2 linked regions of the Homo sapiens genome follow. The protein of the gene in region 1 interacts with the protein of each later gene in a biochemical or structural test. Each region holds a gene or a part of one and is shown on either strand. Other genes may lie near its edges.

Region 1 (7,937 bases):
GGCACACAGACTGGATGTGGGCGGAGTGGAAAGGGCAACGCTCATCCGAATGAATCAGCCGAGAACAGTGCCACTCAGGCCACATCTGAGTCTTCTGGAATCAGCCTGAGGCCCTGATCTGGGCGGATGTGGACAGCATCCCCCTTCCCTACTCTCCCTGAGCCAGAGTCGTCCATCGCTTCTAGCCTGAGTGCCAGGAGCTGAACCAGGAGGCTAGTGGCCAACCTGGTGCACACAGCACATGCTGCCGGAATAAAGCTCCTTCTCCGTGGTCCCAGCCCTTCCTAGCATATGCTGGGTGTGCCCGTCCTGGGGTGGTCCACACTCATCCGTCTTACAAATGCTGACCGAGAACTGCAGCTCGGATGAGGAGGGATGGAGGGGGTGTGCAGAGGGTGGGGCCCCGTCCGAGCCCTTGGCTTCTGCCCACGAGTGAAGCAGAATTTAGGGAAGAGGTGGCTGAGCCCCTACCCACACTAAGGGCTGGAGTGGGAGCCAAGGAGTCAGGCGCTGAGGTTAGAGGAGGGAGGTTTCAGAGAGGCGAGCTGAGTCCAAGGGGTGCGGTCGGCCGCCCTCTCTTCACTTCAAGCTGCAAGGAAAGGGGCTTTAAAGAAAGCCGCCAGAGAGCTTCACCGTGTCCCCTGCAGTTTAATAAATCCCTTGGACTGATGCCTCACCCACTGCAAAGTCTAGAGGGCAGTCAGGCTGGCTGCATTGAAGGCGGAGCTAAGGAGAGGGCTGGCGGCCCAGGTGAGGGCCTCCTGTGAGAGACAGCATGGAGTCTCCTAGGTCCAGTCGAAGGAGGCTGCCCAGAGAGTGAACCGACCTCAGCCAAGAGGAGGCAGAGCTGCCACTAAGTATTGGGGGCTTATGGGTCCCCTGAGGCCCATGTGAAACACTCTAGTCAGGGGACCATGGGGCCAGGCTCTTAGGACCCTTGGAGGAGCCCACAGAGAAAGAGGGACAGCTCTCAACCTCTGCAAACCCAGAGCGCAGCTCAGCCAGAGGCTGCCATGCCCACTGCCTGCCCCAAGCTGCCACCCCCAGGCCTGAGCTGGGTGGGGAGCAGGAGAGTTGATGATGGCATGGGCTTCGATGGGGGCTGAGCCTGTGTTTTGTGATGTGAAGTGATGAGGACCATTTGTATTTTCTTACCAAGATGCACCCAGCTGGCGAGGCTTTCTCTCTCTCTCTCTGTCTCTCTCTCTCTCTCCCCCCTGTACCCCTCAGCTCTCTCTCTCTCCCCCTGTACCCCTCAGCCAGGGCCCAACAAAAAATAGGGCCTAAGGAAAAGAGCCCTGGGCTGGGGCTCCACAGAGTTGCGTTTGGAGGCCTGGGGAGGAGGGACTTGAATTTGGGCCTGGAATGTGGGATCATGAGCAACAATGGAGGAAGGCGCAGAGGCCCCCAAGACCTGTGGGCATGAGCACCATGAGCCGCTCGCCCGGGGAAGGACAAGAATGAAGGCCCTGGTCAGCTGAAACAGCCCACGACTGCCTCCTGAAACACTGTGACGAGAGAAAACCCGACCTTCATCCGGGCTTGAAATCATCCCTTCCTTTCCCACTTCCAAACTCCCCCCAGCCTCAGTTTCTCCCCACAGCCCCTATGTGAGGAAACCACAGTGGGAAACACAGGGCTGAAGCGTTCCTAGTGGACAAGACCAGGTCCTTCCACAGCCTCCTTAACCTTCTGTGGGTCTGATATACCGCAGAGAATACTGGGAATTGCCAAGGCCGTCTCTGGGAAGTCTGCAGATGCCCGTGTGCCCACAACAGGTCCGCCTCTGAGGCCCATGTGGGAGTCCAGCCCCCTTTCTCCTCCCCTTCTCATTCCTGTGTTCCCCACAGGCCCAGGGGAGGGACCCAGCTGGAAGCACTTGGGGCCCTGGATAGGCCACTGAGGAAGGGGGGTGTGGTGGCAGGGTCACATACGCCCCACATCTGTATGAGGGGTGTCCACCCAGGTGCTAGCTGCAGTGGGAGGTTCGCAAGGCCCGAACAGCCGGTGGGTCCAGCAGAGCAGGGCAGTTGTCCCAGGCCCGCGGTGTCACGGCTGGTGAACTCCGAGGACAGCGCATCTGAGTGTGGGATGTCAGCGAGTGTGCCAAGCAGGGGCGAGCAGCTCTTGGGGGTGCTGCTGTGATGAGTGGGTTCCTCTGCTCCTGACTCCTCCGGCCAGGCCGTCAGGAAGACCAGCCCATCACGGCAGTGCAGTCACCAAGTTTCCAAGCTGCTGTGTAAGCCGTGGGCATAGAACCGCCAGCGGGATCTCAGCATCCACGGTGCTCACTCTAGGAAGAAGGCAACAGGCTTTGGGACCTGGCTTTACCACTCCCTAGCCTGTGACTTGGGCCAGTCTTTTAGCTTTTCTGGGTCTCACCATTATCATCTGTAGAGTGAGATAATTACACTTTTCTCCCAAGGTCACTATGAGGACTCAAAATGCTCAATGCGTCCCTGCTTGCGGAGGCGAGGCTTGCTCAGAGTCAGGAGGGCAGGACTGTCTCAGGCAGTGAAAGGAGGATGGGGCTGGGCACGGTGGCTCATGCCTGGAACTCCAGCACTTTGGGAGGCAGAGGCAGGTGGATCACTTGAGCCCCAGACTTTGAGACCAGCCTGGGCAACATAGTGAGACCCCATCTCTACGAAAAAATACAAAAATTAGCCGTGCATGGTGGCATGAGCCTTGTAGTCCCAGCTACTTGGGAGGCTGAAATAGGAGGATTGCTTGAGCCTGGGAGGTCAAGGCTGCAGTGAGCCATGATCATACCACTGTACTCCAGCCTGGGTGAGAGAGTGAGACCCTGTCTCAAAAAAAAAAAAAAAAAAAAAAAAAGCAGATGAGCTCCCAGGATGCCGGCCCTGAGCTGGCAGCCATGAAGGCGCTTGCCTCCCTCCACTTCCTAGGGTGCAGTGTGGGTGGGGCGGGGGCAGCTAGGGAGTCCTCCGGGCTCTGCCGAGCCCCTTCCCCAGTGTGAAGTCCAGCCTGTTCTGAAGTCGCACAGGGCCAGACACCTGGGCTGCCACCTCCCCTCTGGAAACAGTCCTCCTTGCCTCGGTGGGTCGACAGCTCCAGGCTATTTTCTTCCCCTGAGGATCTGAAAGTTGGAGGTAATTGGTTGGCTCAAAAAAAAAAAAAAAAAAAAAGGAAAAGGGCATGCAAGCACAATTGTGCAGGCTGCAAAGGAGGGAGGCATCCTAGGGCTTCGTCTCCATGGGAACTACTGGCACAGGCTGGCTCCTCTGGGCTCCAAAAAGGGAAACTTGGCAAAGGTTTCAGGCACCTGGCTCCTGAGTGGTTTGCTTGGGGGCCAAGCAAATGCCCAGGAGCTGCCCGCCCAAGGGACAGGACACAGCCCCCTCTCTCAGGGATGCCTGGGAGCCCTCGGCCCCATCCTTCACCCTCACACCCCAGGAGATCCCGTCAGGTCCTCAGCCACCCTGGATGCATCCTGACTTGGGAGCTGGGAGGGGACCCAGCACAGCTGGAGAGCATGAGCAGGTCATGCTTTGGGGAGACACCCGTGCTTCGAGGCCCTCGGATGGGTGAATGGGAGGTAGTTAATAAGGGACAGATGAAAGAGGTGGAAGGACCCTGAGTGTCACCCTGCTGATGTAGCCCTGGTGGCTGTTGCTGTTTCTAGGATGTGAGCCCCAGACCAGCACCTTGCAGACCAGCACCTCAGGCCAGGACCCTGAGAGAGGACGCTTCAGATGCTGGGTGCAGTGGCTCCCTGCTGTCCTGGGGGCCCCTTGGGCTGAGATCATCATAAGGGTGGCACTGTCCTGTGTCTGTGAAGAGTGGCAGGCGGGACTGGGGCAGTGGGGGTGTCCTGGCTTGTTCTGGAAAATACCTCCAGGAATGATCCCTTCCTTTTCCACTTCCACAGTCCCTCCTGGGCACTCTGGGTTCAACTGCTGCTCCTCCCCACTTCTTGGGGCAGAAACTCCTGCCCTGAACTCCCCTCTCCCCAGCCCCAGCTCCCTGCACCCTCTACCCCCATTCCTCCTTGGTGACCAAAAAGGGCAAGGAGCAGAGAAAGAGGCAGCGGGCAGGGGAGGCACAGAGAGCCGCTGGTGACAGGGTAGGGGAGAGGCCAGGAGAGCCAGACAGAGGCTTGGACAGGCTCTGAGAGACCAGGATTAGGGGCCATGGAGAGAGAGAGAGAAAGAGGGGAGAGAGAGAGAGAGAAAGAGGGGAGAGAGAGAGAGAGAGAGAAAGAGAGAAAGGGAGGGAGCGAGGAGGCAGAGGGGTGGAGCGATAGAAGCCGGCAGGGAGGAAGGGGTGGGCAGGGGGAGGGCGAGAAGCCGCCGTTGACAATTACGTCTGGGTCCAAGCAAACATGAGGCAGCTGCCAGCCGGCCTGGGCAGTCTTGTCTGCCTCGGCTGTGAAGTGGGGAGGCTGGCAACAGTTTTCTTCAGCGCCCAGGATGCAGCCGGCTAAGGTAGGTGCTGGGGGAATGGGGTCTTGCTCTGGAGGGGGGTCGGGGGGAGGAATGGAGGCTTCTGGGGGTTGCTCTGGACCAGGAAGCCTTTTTCTTTGACCCTTGTCCCCTCTTGTTCCACTTTCCTTTGGGGAAAGTGAGCGTTGGGGCGTCCTGGCTGGCGCTGGGGTGTCCTGGCTGGTGTTGGAGTGTCCTGGCTGGCGTTGGGGTGTCCTGGCTGGTGTTGGGGTGTCCTGGCTGGGAGGCTGAACTCCTAGGGCTCCCTTTGGATGGGAGAGGTTTATAAGTGTTTGCGGAAGAAAAGCTGGACAGAGGAGGAGCTTGGGGTCAGCCCACGACTCATCCTGCTCAGTTAGGTCCCTGGGTCAGGTGCCAGCGTGGCTGACACTGAGCCCGGGCCCCACAGCCTTCAGGTTTGGGGGAGGGGTGAGCCTGGGAGGGAGTCACTTGTGCTTGGAGGTTGGTCAATGAACGCATCTTCTAATCAAGCAATCAAGTAACGAATGAGTGCCCACTTCCTCTGAAAGGGCTAGGAGCCCCTAACAAGAGCACTTCCCACACATTCCCTTTCAGTAGGGCTGTGGGGAGGTCAGAGAGAGAATGCAAGGAAAACGCCTGGCACAGAGTTTGAGAAACAGTGGTGGGGAACAGGGAAGGGTGAAGAATTAAAGGAGGAATGAGGGAAGGAGAAATAAGCTGGCCCTCCAGCCTCTAGCTGACTCTCAAAAGGTCTGGCCTGATGCCCTGTGAGCTGCTCACACATTCAGGATAGTTCAGGTCTGGCTGCTCATAACAGAACGCCCCAAATAACAGTGGATGGAACAAGGTTAGCGGGGTTTCTCTCTCATGCAGAAGTCCAGAGGGGCAGTGGAGGGCTGGCTTGGAGGCCGCCTGATCAGCAGCATTTCAGGCCTGCCCTGTATCACCCCTGAGGTTACCTTAAGGTGCAACATAACTGCTGGAGCTCCAGCCAGCACACATGGGCTCATACTGACATATGAGCAGGAAGGAGAAAGAAAGAAGGGCAAAAGGACCCAGAGACAATCAGGGTCTTGAATGTAGGAAAGAAGGGATATGGGGTTGGCACCTCAGCGTCTCTGCCCTGAACAGATGGCTTCCTGCCTCTTTCATCTGTGAGGACAAGCATCCAAGCATGGGCGGGTGGCTGGCTTGGACCACACTGCCCCCAAACCCCAGGCCTCCCTTGTGCTATCTGCTCCATCTTCCAGGGTGCCAAGAGGATCAGCTGAGGTGATGGCATGAAGCCCTTTGAGCATGGCAACACTACACATGGAAAATGTGCCTTCTCTCCTGTCACCTCAAGTCTCCCCAGCAACCACCATGCAGGCAGGGCAGAGTGGAGAAACGTAGCGCCTTGCCCCAGGCTCACACACTACGGCGTCAGGGTGCACAGTGCAACCGTGCCCATAGGCAGAGACACATTGAGCGACCCTGCATGACTACAGAGATGGGAATTTCCAGAGTCAGGCTGCACACAGATGTGCACACAGCCAGCTCTGACCTCCAGCAGAAGACAGTCCTCCCCTCCTTTGCCTTTCCTCTGCGGGCCTTAACTGCCAAAGGTCACTCTGGGAGCTTGGCCACTCCTGCCCCTGCCAGACTGGCAGAGTGGGTGGCCTGAGTCCTGCACTTACATCTGGTTCTTCCCTTGGCCATTGTGACCCCACACTGCGCTCTACCCTCCCACAACCAGCTCCTGGGCCCCAGTGGGTCTCACTGTCCTTATGTCTGCTGGTGGCCTTCCTGTGGCTGGCCTGGCCAGGGAGGGGAGTGGGACCCACACCTCCTGGTGCTGGGCCCAGCAGAGACAGTGGTCCTAGGAGAAGCCACCATTAGGTTTCTCATCAAGATCAATGGGAGATTGTGAAAAATAACCTTCCTCTCTTGTGGCAGCAGGGACTGTAGTCAGAGCTCAGGTTGGGAGGTGTTCTGACTCCTCAGGGTCACGGTCAGTGGCTGTCCCCCAGTAACGCCCCATGACTGCCCGGCTCCCTAGCCTACTCCCCAGCCATTCATGAATTCTCACCTCACTCCTATGGGGAGGCGGGGAGGCACTGCCATTCCTATTCTAGACACTGAGGCTCAGAAAACTGGAACAGCTCCAGGACTCCATGAGCTTGATCCCATGAGCTCTTAGGAGAAAGGAGCGAAAGACCCGCAGTTTCTGCGACAGGCGCTGCTGTCGCGGTGTTGAGGCTGTGGTGTCTTCACAGCTCAGCCCGTGCACTGGGAACCCCTTTTGCCTGGCTTCCAGCCTTGTTGCAGGGCACTGTGCGAGATGGGCCCTAATTTGCTCCCACATTTCAAAAGACCCCAGGCTGCACTGGGAAGAAAGGGGCTCTGCCTCAGCCCTCCAGGTAGAGCCCAGGAGAAGGGCAGAGCTGAGAGCCAGAAGCCTGAGGGTACCAACGCCCATCTAGGACATTGTCTCCCGCATTATCTCCCTGGACCCTCACGCAGCCCACAAGGCAGCTGTTGGTATCATCCCCACTTCACAGATGGGGAAACAGAGGCCTGCCCCAGACTGCAGGCTACAAGAGTTGTGGCTGAGATTTGAACCCTGCTCTGTCTTACTCCAGAGCGCAGCAAGTCCCTAGGGCTTGGGGGTTGCGGAAGAAGACGCAGGAGGAGAAGGGCATGCCTTTAACCAGATGGCAGAGGAGGGGCCCATCCCAGCCGTGCGGCCGGTGGTCTGTTGTGCCCTCTGAGCCCTCCAGTGAGTGCACACAAGCCAGACTCCACCTGGCCGCATCCCCTGCGTTAGCCACGTGACCTGGAGCTAGCTGCCTCCCATTTTTGGACTGTGGATCCAGAGCTAGGAAGTAAAGGACCCCAACATTTTAAATTCAGGCTGCCTTGTCTTATCAAGACCTTCTGTGTGAGGCAGGGAACTGCTTTACTGACTTAGCAGAGGGGCCTTAGAGCCCCCCTGCCCTCCCCAGCCCACCCCTGGGCATCCCAGTGACTTCCAGGAGCAGCCAATGTGGCTTCTGCACGGAAGAAAGCACTCTCAGTTTCCAAGGTGAAGCAGAAGAGGGGAGAGAAGTTAGCACGTCTTTCTGGCCTAGTGCCCAGACCTGGGGCAGGCAGGAGCCTGAGAGTCGGGGGAGGGCACAGCATGGGGCGAGTCCCGTGCTGCTTCCTGCCCAGGGCTCCCGGCCTCAGCTGACTGATGTTGCCTTTGAGCAGGTGCGTCTGTCATCTGAGATCAGCCCATGCCTTAGAAGGCCAAAGAGCAGCCCTGTGGCAGGGAAAGAAGCAAGGGGACCTGCAGAGTTGGAGAGGGAGCAGCTGAGCTGAGACGGGAGGGCAGCGTGGGGGTGGCGTGTCCCACACTAGAGTCGGCCCAGCCTCCCCCTCTGACCTGCCACCTCAGCTCTCTGCCCAGCATGCCCTCTCCATCAGCCTGGCCATGCCTGGGCCAGGCTCAGCCAGGAAAAGCAGCTGCTGGTCTTTTCTGGCCTCACC
Region 2 (7,848 bases), on another chromosome or scaffold:
GGCAGAGTTGCTGTGAGGATGGAGTGGGACAACGCTGGGGCTTGAGACCTCCCTCAGTACCCCTTCTCTTCCCAGGCACTCAGAGGCATGGGGAGGGGGCCCAGGGACACTGAAAGGGGACAGGGAGGGTGGGGAAGAGCTCCACTGACTGGGCAGCCCAGGACAGGATATTTGCATGTGACTCTTTGCTGCTGCCTTGATGTGGCTGGGAGGGGGGAGGAGGAAGTAACTGAGGGTGGGAGGCTGGCGGATGGAGGGTTGGGTGAGGGACCTGTGGGTGTGGGGGAGGAGTTCCCCTTCTGGGAAGGCCTTGCCCTGGGTTGAGGGGTGGGTGTCTGTTGCTCACTCACAGTGAAGCAATGACTGCAGGGCATGTTCGCAGGAGGCCTCTAGCAAGTTTCTCAATGGGCCCCTGCAGTACTTCCTTCTCCAGGCAGCTTAGGTCGGGGAGTCATCTAGGGACCTAGCCTTGCCCCCTCCCTAGAAGGCAACTTCTGCCCTTGTACCACCTGCCCTCACCCAGGCCAGATGGATACAGGACTAGAAAGCCAGAGGGGAAACTGAGGCCCAGCATGAGAAAGTGGTTGTCTAAGGTTGCCATGGCGTTGTTGGAGTTGGGGTTCACCTCTTGACTCAGCCCTACTTGATGTGGACAGTGTCTCCCATTCACTACGTAACACACATGGAGAAGCTGAGGTTCACAGATAGCGAGTGATGGGCCACAGTGTGAATCAGAGATTCAGACCCAGCTCTGGGAGGCTCAGGCCCCTTCCACCCTCCTCAACCTGGTGGCCCACAGGCCACACACATTTGGCTAGCTCCCTGACACATTTTATTTGGCTGCAGTGAGTTTTTTTTTTTTTTTAAACAAAATGGGGGCCAATATTTTATGTTAGAGTCTGCAATTCCGGCTGCTTTTGAAAAAATCAGAAGAGCTGGCCACATTGAGCCAGAAACCCTCCTAGCAGCAATCAAGCAATCAGCTGGCGTTCTCCTGCAGCTGGCCCTGTCAGAGAGGCCTTCGCTGTTCCTGGTCATCTCACATCTGGCCCACGTTTCCCACACCTGTTGGGCTCTGCAGGCAATCGAACTGCTGCTGTGACCTCAGCTGCTGCAGATGGGGTGTCTGCGAGGTCAAGCAAGACAGGCAGGGGACCGGGGAAGCCCCAGTGTGCAGGGGACGGGGAGTCCTGGGTGCCAGCCCCCTTGCCCCTGCCTCATTTGAGCGTCTGATATCTCTGATGTGGGGCCTGGTGATAGAGGCCTGGGAGCCTCCTTGTCCCCATGCTGCCCTGTGCGTCTCTCAGGCCTGCCCCACTGGCCTAGAATCTCTCCCTCCCGGGCCTTCTGCACTTCTCAGCACTGTGACGTCCTTCTCCCCTTTCTTCACCGGGGGAACTCCTACCTGGCGGGAAGCAACTGGGGCTGGACCCATTGTTGGAGCTACTTGGAACACTGTCCTCCCGCAGCGACCTCACTGCCTCTCTTGGCTCTCCCAGTGCAGGAGCCTGAAGCAGGAGAAGCACGTGTGTCCTGGAACGCAGCAAGGGCGTGCTGGAGCGTGCAGAGGGAAGGCCTGAGGTGCTGTTCTGCCTCAGCTCTGCCTTGGCTGGGCCCTAGAGGCCGTGGACCGCACTGAGGACCCAGAGGCAGTTCTGAGGCAGTGGGACTCGAGACCCAGTGTCCTATTGCTCCCACAGGTGGCGGTGGAAATCGCAAAGGCAAAAGCAAGAAATGGCGGCAGATGCTCCAGTTCCCTCACATCAGCCAGTGCGAAGAGCTGCGGCTCAGCCTCGGTGAGGCCTGGGCAGAGACTGGGGGTGCTGAGGCGAGGGGCCCTGCTGGGGCCGGGGGAGCCTCCCCTGAGACCTTGCCCCGGAGCAGAGGGGCAGACTTGGGGGCTCCAGTGAGCAGGAGGATGAGGACTGCACCATTCAGCCCAGTTTCAGTTCCTGGGCTTGGGACGGGTGGAGAGCAGACAGCAAACAGGGTCACACCGAGGGTGGTTGAAGCGGGTGTCGGGAATAGGGCAGGGGCAGATTGGGGCAGTTGATTCCACTTTGAAAAGGAGAGCCAGCTAGGGTGAGCAGGGCCCACAGGACAGAGGGAGCAGCAGCTGGGCCAGCCCACAGACTGACTGCCTTGGGACCCCCAGGCTGGGGCGTAGCCTCCCAGGCCCAGCCCTGAGGGGTGCCCAGCAAATCCTTGACCAGAAGCCCTCAGCCTGGGCAGTGTGACAGGGTTACTCCTGGGAGGGGACAGAAGGGCCCAGGACCCCAGTTCCTGCCAATCTTGGCCAAGGCCCCAGGTCTGAGCAGCACCCAAGGTTGCTGAGGCCCCCGGTGGCCTGCACGTGCGCAGAGCACACCCGGGCTGCTTCCACCTCCTGGGAAGGAGGCCCAGCTGAGAGCCTGCCGGAAGCCACAGCTTCCTCTCGCACTTTCGCCAGGCAGGCAGCAGGTGTGGGCCTGGCCCCGGCTGGGCTGGGCCGGAACCTCACGGACCGCACCCAACCCCAGTACCGTGACATACGCAAGTCGTGTAAATCAGGAGACAATGCAGGGAGGTGGATGGAGGCCTGGGCTCTGGAGCCAGACTCCCGGCTGTGTGACACTGAGCTAGTCAGTTAGCCTCTCTGGGCCTCACAGCCCCAAAACAGCTGTGCCCACCTGAGGGTTGTGGTGAGGGTTCTGAAGAAGATTGTGGCTACCACACTGCAGAGCTGGAAGCTGTTGTGGGGGCCCAGGGCCTGGTGGTGTGGGCACATGCCCCACCCATGTGCTCTCGGGCTGTGGACCCAGCAGCTTCCATCACTGCCAACAGAGCGTGACTATCACAGCCTGTGCGAGCGGCAGCCCATTGGGCGCCTGCTGTTCCGAGAGTTCTGTGCCACGAGGCCGGAGCTGAGCCGCTGCGTCGCCTTCCTGGATGGGGTGGTGAGTGCAGCCCAGCCCTGCCCAGCCCCGCGGGTGGCCGAGGTCCTGGCCCCATGTGCCCCTCCTCCCCACACCTGCTGCTTGCCCTGCCCAGACCTCCAGCTTCTTTGCTTTCCACCCTGCAGGCCGAGTATGAAGTGACCCCGGATGACAAGCGGAAGGCATGTGGGCGGCAGCTAACGCAGAATTTTCTGAGCCACACGGTGAGTGAGCAGCGATGGAGAGATGATGGGAGCCACCAGAGCCCCGTGTCAGGCACAGGAGTGACCACAGTGTCAGGCTTCTGAGGGTGGTCTCTTCATACAGACACATGTAACACACAGCCTGGACAGAGAGTGCCCTGGAGCTGCTCCAGGCAGCACGGCGGGCATGCAGCCCAGGGTATGGGCTGGGCTTGGGCCAGGCGGCCTCCCAGTGGCTCTGCTGCGCTCTGCCTCATGGGTGGGCAGCAGGAAGGACTTCAGCAACCAGGCTGGCTGGCACACCCTGGCCTGCAGCCTCTCATGGCACCAGCCCGAGTTGCCTGACCCCTCTCCCCTGGAAGTGGGCAGCCATCCAAGGGAGCCCCTGCACTGACCTGTCTGGGGCTTGTTCCCAGGGTCCTGACCTCATCCCTGAGGTCCCCCGGCAGCTGGTGACGAACTGCACCCAGCGGCTGGAGCAGGGTCCCTGCAAAGACCTTTTCCAGGAACTCACCCGGTAAGCCTGTCCCTGCCCACAAGCCTGGAATTATGCCCAGCGGAGGGGGCTTCTGGGGGCCAGGAAGACTGTGAACAGCTCGGTGGCTGGTGAGGGAGCTCAGCTGCCCAGCCCTGGCCTTGCCCCTGCTGTGTGACCTGAGCAGGCTGCCTCCCCTCTCAGTAGCACCCACAGCTTCAGCACAGGCTGTGTGTCTCCCCGCTCAGGGGTTAGCAGGAGGACTGGCCGACGACGATACCTGTGGGCTAAGCCTGTACAGAACGGGAGGCCTGGCCCAGCAAGCCAAGAGCCTGAGGTGTCAGGGGCTGGCGGGTGAGCTGGGCCTGCCTTTCCTCAACAGGCTGACCCACGAGTACCTGAGCGTGGCCCCTTTTGCCGACTACCTCGACAGCATCTACTTCAACCGTTTCCTGCAGTGGAAGTGGCTGGAAAGGTGAGCTCCCTGAAGGCTGGGCCGGGACAGGCCAGGTCGCCGGGGTTCTTCATAGGCCTTGGGCTCTCCTGCTCAGCCAGCGTTTGCTTCCCCACCCCTTGCCACAGGCAGCCAGTGACCAAAAACACCTTCAGGCAATACCGAGTCCTGGGCAAAGGTGGCTTTGGGGAGGTGAGTGGCCAGGCCAGAGCCCCTGGGAGAGTGAATAGGGTGGGTGTGTTGGGACCTGGACCACCCCCTGGATGCCCAGCAATGGCACAGCTGGCCCCCATTCGCCCCTGTCTGTCTGGCCACAGGTGTGCGCCTGCCAGGTGCGGGCCACAGGTAAGATGTATGCCTGCAAGAAGCTAGAGAAAAAGCGGATCAAGAAGCGGAAAGGGGAGGCCATGGCGCTGAACGAGAAGCAGATCCTGGAGAAAGTGAACAGTAGGTTTGTAGTAAGTACAGAAGGAGACTCTCCCTTCCCCTTGGCCACACTGGCGCACCGACCGTCCCCACCCCCCAGGCCCCACCCTCCCATGTGGGATGCCAGGAAGGGCGGGTTTGGGGTGTTGACACCAGGCTTGGGGAGCAGGCTGGGCCCAAGGAGTGGCACCGAGAAGGCTTTTTTGGGCAGCCCTGCCGCCAAGCGCCCCGCAGCTCCTGCCTGAGGGCTCGGGTCCCCTCGGCCACAGGTGAGCTTGGCCTACGCCTATGAGACCAAGGACGCGCTGTGCCTGGTGCTGACACTGATGAACGGGGGCGACCTCAAGTTCCACATCTACCACATGGGCCAGGCTGGCTTCCCCGAAGCGCGGGCCGTCTTCTACGCCGCCGAGATCTGCTGTGGCCTGGAGGACCTGCACCGGGAGCGCATCGTGTACAGGTGGGGAGGGCTCGGCCACCCCAGGGGCTTAGTCCTTCCCTGCCAGCGACTGCAGCTGGGCCTGGACGGGGGTGGCCAAGGCTGCCGATCAGGCCAGACTACAGAAGGACATTGGTTTGGGGGCTGTGGCACCGGCTTAACTCACACGCCAGGCCAACCTGAGTAGCCCAGACCTAGGCTTTGGGCTCTGCTGGACCCACGGGGTATCCTGACTTTGTCACCCCTCCACCCCCCACCGTGTGACCTTGGGCCAGGAGCTCCCTGCTCCCAACACTGCTTCCTTTTCTAGGAAGCAGAGACTATAATTCCTACTTCCCAGGTTGTTAGAAGTAGGCCCAACTTCCTACTGGAGGGGCCCAGTGAGCTAAGTACAGAGTGCCTGGCACATGGGGCTGGGTAAGAGAGAACCCTGGCTCTGATTGTTGCCGACTTCCTGTGAACCTCACAACAGCCTAGTCAGGGGACGGATGAGTAGTCCCATTTGATAGAGAGGAAAGGCAGAGTCAGTCACCAAGGGGTGGAGACTCCTTGGTCTCCACTGGGGAGGCCCCTCCGGGGTGGAGCTGTCTTCCACTCATCTAGAGAGTCCTGGGAGTCCTGGCTCTAGATCCTTCCTCTGCTCCCTTGAGTCCGGGCTGTTGCCAGGGAGAGCAGGGCTGTCTGTCGCCCTGGCAGCAAATGAGTCTCGCACCTTGCTCCACACCTGGCCCCCGGAGGCGAGTGAGCTGGGGGGGCTGGCCCCTTCTGACTCCCTGGCAAACTGAGCAGCATCTGACCCTGCTCTTCTCTCTGCACAGGGACCTGAAGCCCGAGAACATCTTGCTGGATGACCACGGTGTGTAAGGGTGCCTGGGGTGGGTCAGGGTGGGGTGAGATGCAGAGGCCTGGCCTGTTAACGGGTCCACCTGTTTCTCCACCCACACTCAGGCCACATCCGCATCTCTGACCTGGGACTAGCTGTGCATGTGCCCGAGGGCCAGACCATCAAAGGGCGTGTGGGCACCGTGGGTTACATGGGTGAGTCTTCTCTGCCCGGCCCACTAGCCTCCTGGGTTCCCTCACTATCCACCCACCCAGCCACACCCACTTCTGTCTGGGAGTCTTCTCTCAAAAGGGGCCTCAGTAGAAAGGGCCCATGCCGATGCTCCTCTTCTAGAGGTTAGGAGACCAAGACTCAGCCGGGGCCGCACACAGTTGTGAAGCCATGTCGTTCATTTGCTGAATACTTATTAAACCCTGCTATGGCTGAGCCTGCAGGTGGCTACCGGGGGATGGAGGAGAGAGACCCAAACCTGTTTCCGTGGCCCCAGTCCCTGCCCTCCCTGTGCCCATCTGTGAGGGAGGCCAGTGGAGGGGCCAACATGAGGCCCCACATTCCACCTGGAGACCGAGAGACGCAGGAGGCAGAGTCCTGGCTCTGCAGGCTCCGCCTCTTGCCGGTTGCGTGGCCTTGAACCAGACACTCCGCTGCTCCCGGCCTCACTCTGCTCCACTGGAAAACACTCATCATACCTGCCTCCCAGGGCTGCCTGGAAGATGAAAAGGGAGAGTTCAGGGAAAACTCCCCACAGGGCTGCCCTGGCAGGTAGGAGGTATTCAGAAAATAGGAGTTTCCTTCTTCTCGCTGATATTAAATCCAGAAGTTGCAAAATGGTAGCCACATGGGCCCAATTTGGCCTACATTTGTGTTTAAGTCAAACTGTTTTTAGTAAGCCAGATGGTTTCACATACAAAATACAGATTTCTGACTTCTTGTGTAAAATCTGAAGACCCGGGGACCCTGGGCGCGGCCTCCTGCAGGGCCGTATTCACCCCGCTTGATGGGGCCTGTGCTCTCCTACTGGCCAAGGTCCCCCCTGGCCAGCGGGTGTGAGTGTATCCCAGACCTAACGTGCACTGGCGTTCCTGGGGCCTGAGGGTCCACTGCCCGCCTCCTGCCCAGCCCTAACTCCCATGCCGCCCGCCCAGCTCCGGAGGTGGTGAAGAATGAACGGTACACGTTCAGCCCTGACTGGTGGGCGCTCGGCTGCCTCCTGTACGAGATGATCGCAGGCCAGTCGCCCTTCCAGCAGAGGAAGAAGAAGATCAAGCGGGAGGAGGTGGAGCGGCTGGTGAAGGAGGTCCCCGAGGAGTATTCCGAGCGCTTTTCCCCGCAGGCCCGCTCACTTTGCTCACAGGTACGGCAGCTCACAGAAGCCTGGCCAGCCAGGGCTGGGGTGGATGCACCTTTCCCTCCCTCCCACCCACTCACCTGCCTGGCCTGCCTGGCCGACTCACCCCTGCCACAGCTCCTCTGCAAGGACCCTGCCGAACGCCTGGGGTGTCGTGGGGGCAGTGCCCGCGAGGTGAAGGAGCACCCCCTCTTTAAGAAGCTGAACTTCAAGCGGCTGGGAGCTGGCATGCTGGAGCCGCCGTTCAAGCCTGACGTGAGTGCAGCCCACTCCTGCTGAGGGCGGGGCCCAGCCAGGGCTGGGGCTCAGGGGCTCTTGTAGTATCAGCCAGGATGCTTCCAGTGCAAGTGGCAGAAAAAACAATCTAGTGGCTTAGCCACAGAAATAAAGATAATTCACAAAAAGGAAAAGCCCCAGGATGGGTCTGGCTTGTGGCATGCCTGGATGGGGCTTGGAGCCTCTGACAATGTCCTAGGAACTCTCTCTCCTTCCCCTCACTGTACCGTTGAGTGTGTAGTCTTCATATTGGGGTAGCTCTCCCCATGGTGCGGCAGCAGTGGGCCCCAGCAGCTCAGCCACCACAGTAGACAGAGAGCTTCTCTTCTCTTTTCTCTTCTCCTCTCCTCTCCTTCCTTCCTTCGTTCTTTTTTCCCTTCTTTTTTCCTTTCTTTCCTTTCTTCCTTTTCTTTTCTTTTTGGAGACAGGGTCTTGCTCTGTCCCCGAGGCTGGAGTGCAGTGGTGAGA

Evidence for each region. The genes of interacting proteins can lie anywhere in the genome.
Region 2: the proteins of KCNIP3 (region 1) and GRK6 form a complex in vitro, tested with the Homo sapiens proteins (one study listed by BioGRID).

Annotation. Positions count from the first base shown.
Region 1 is NC_000002.12:95,293,006-95,300,942, forward strand, and holds the start of KCNIP3 (calsenilin), read left to right. Parts: upstream 1-4,341; 5' UTR 4,342-4,433; coding exon 4,434-4,448; intron 4,449-7,937. UniProt on the Homo sapiens protein: Calcium-dependent transcriptional repressor that binds to the DRE element of genes including PDYN and FOS. Affinity for DNA is reduced upon binding to calcium and enhanced by binding to magnesium. Seems to be involved in nociception.
Region 2 is NC_000005.10:177,429,172-177,437,019, forward strand, and holds part of GRK6 (G protein-coupled receptor kinase 6), read left to right. Parts: intron 1-1,700; coding exon 1,701-1,796; intron 1,797-2,539; exon of another isoform or gene 2,540-2,765; coding exon of another isoform or gene 2,766-2,823; coding exon 2,824-2,936; intron 2,937-3,061; coding exon 3,062-3,139; intron 3,140-3,534; coding exon 3,535-3,635; intron 3,636-3,975; coding exon 3,976-4,068; intron 4,069-4,175; coding exon 4,176-4,239; intron 4,240-4,364; coding exon 4,365-4,505; intron 4,506-4,742; coding exon 4,743-4,933; intron 4,934-5,730; coding exon 5,731-5,768; intron 5,769-5,860; coding exon 5,861-5,950; intron 5,951-6,901; coding exon 6,902-7,110; intron 7,111-7,221; coding exon 7,222-7,359; intron 7,360-7,848.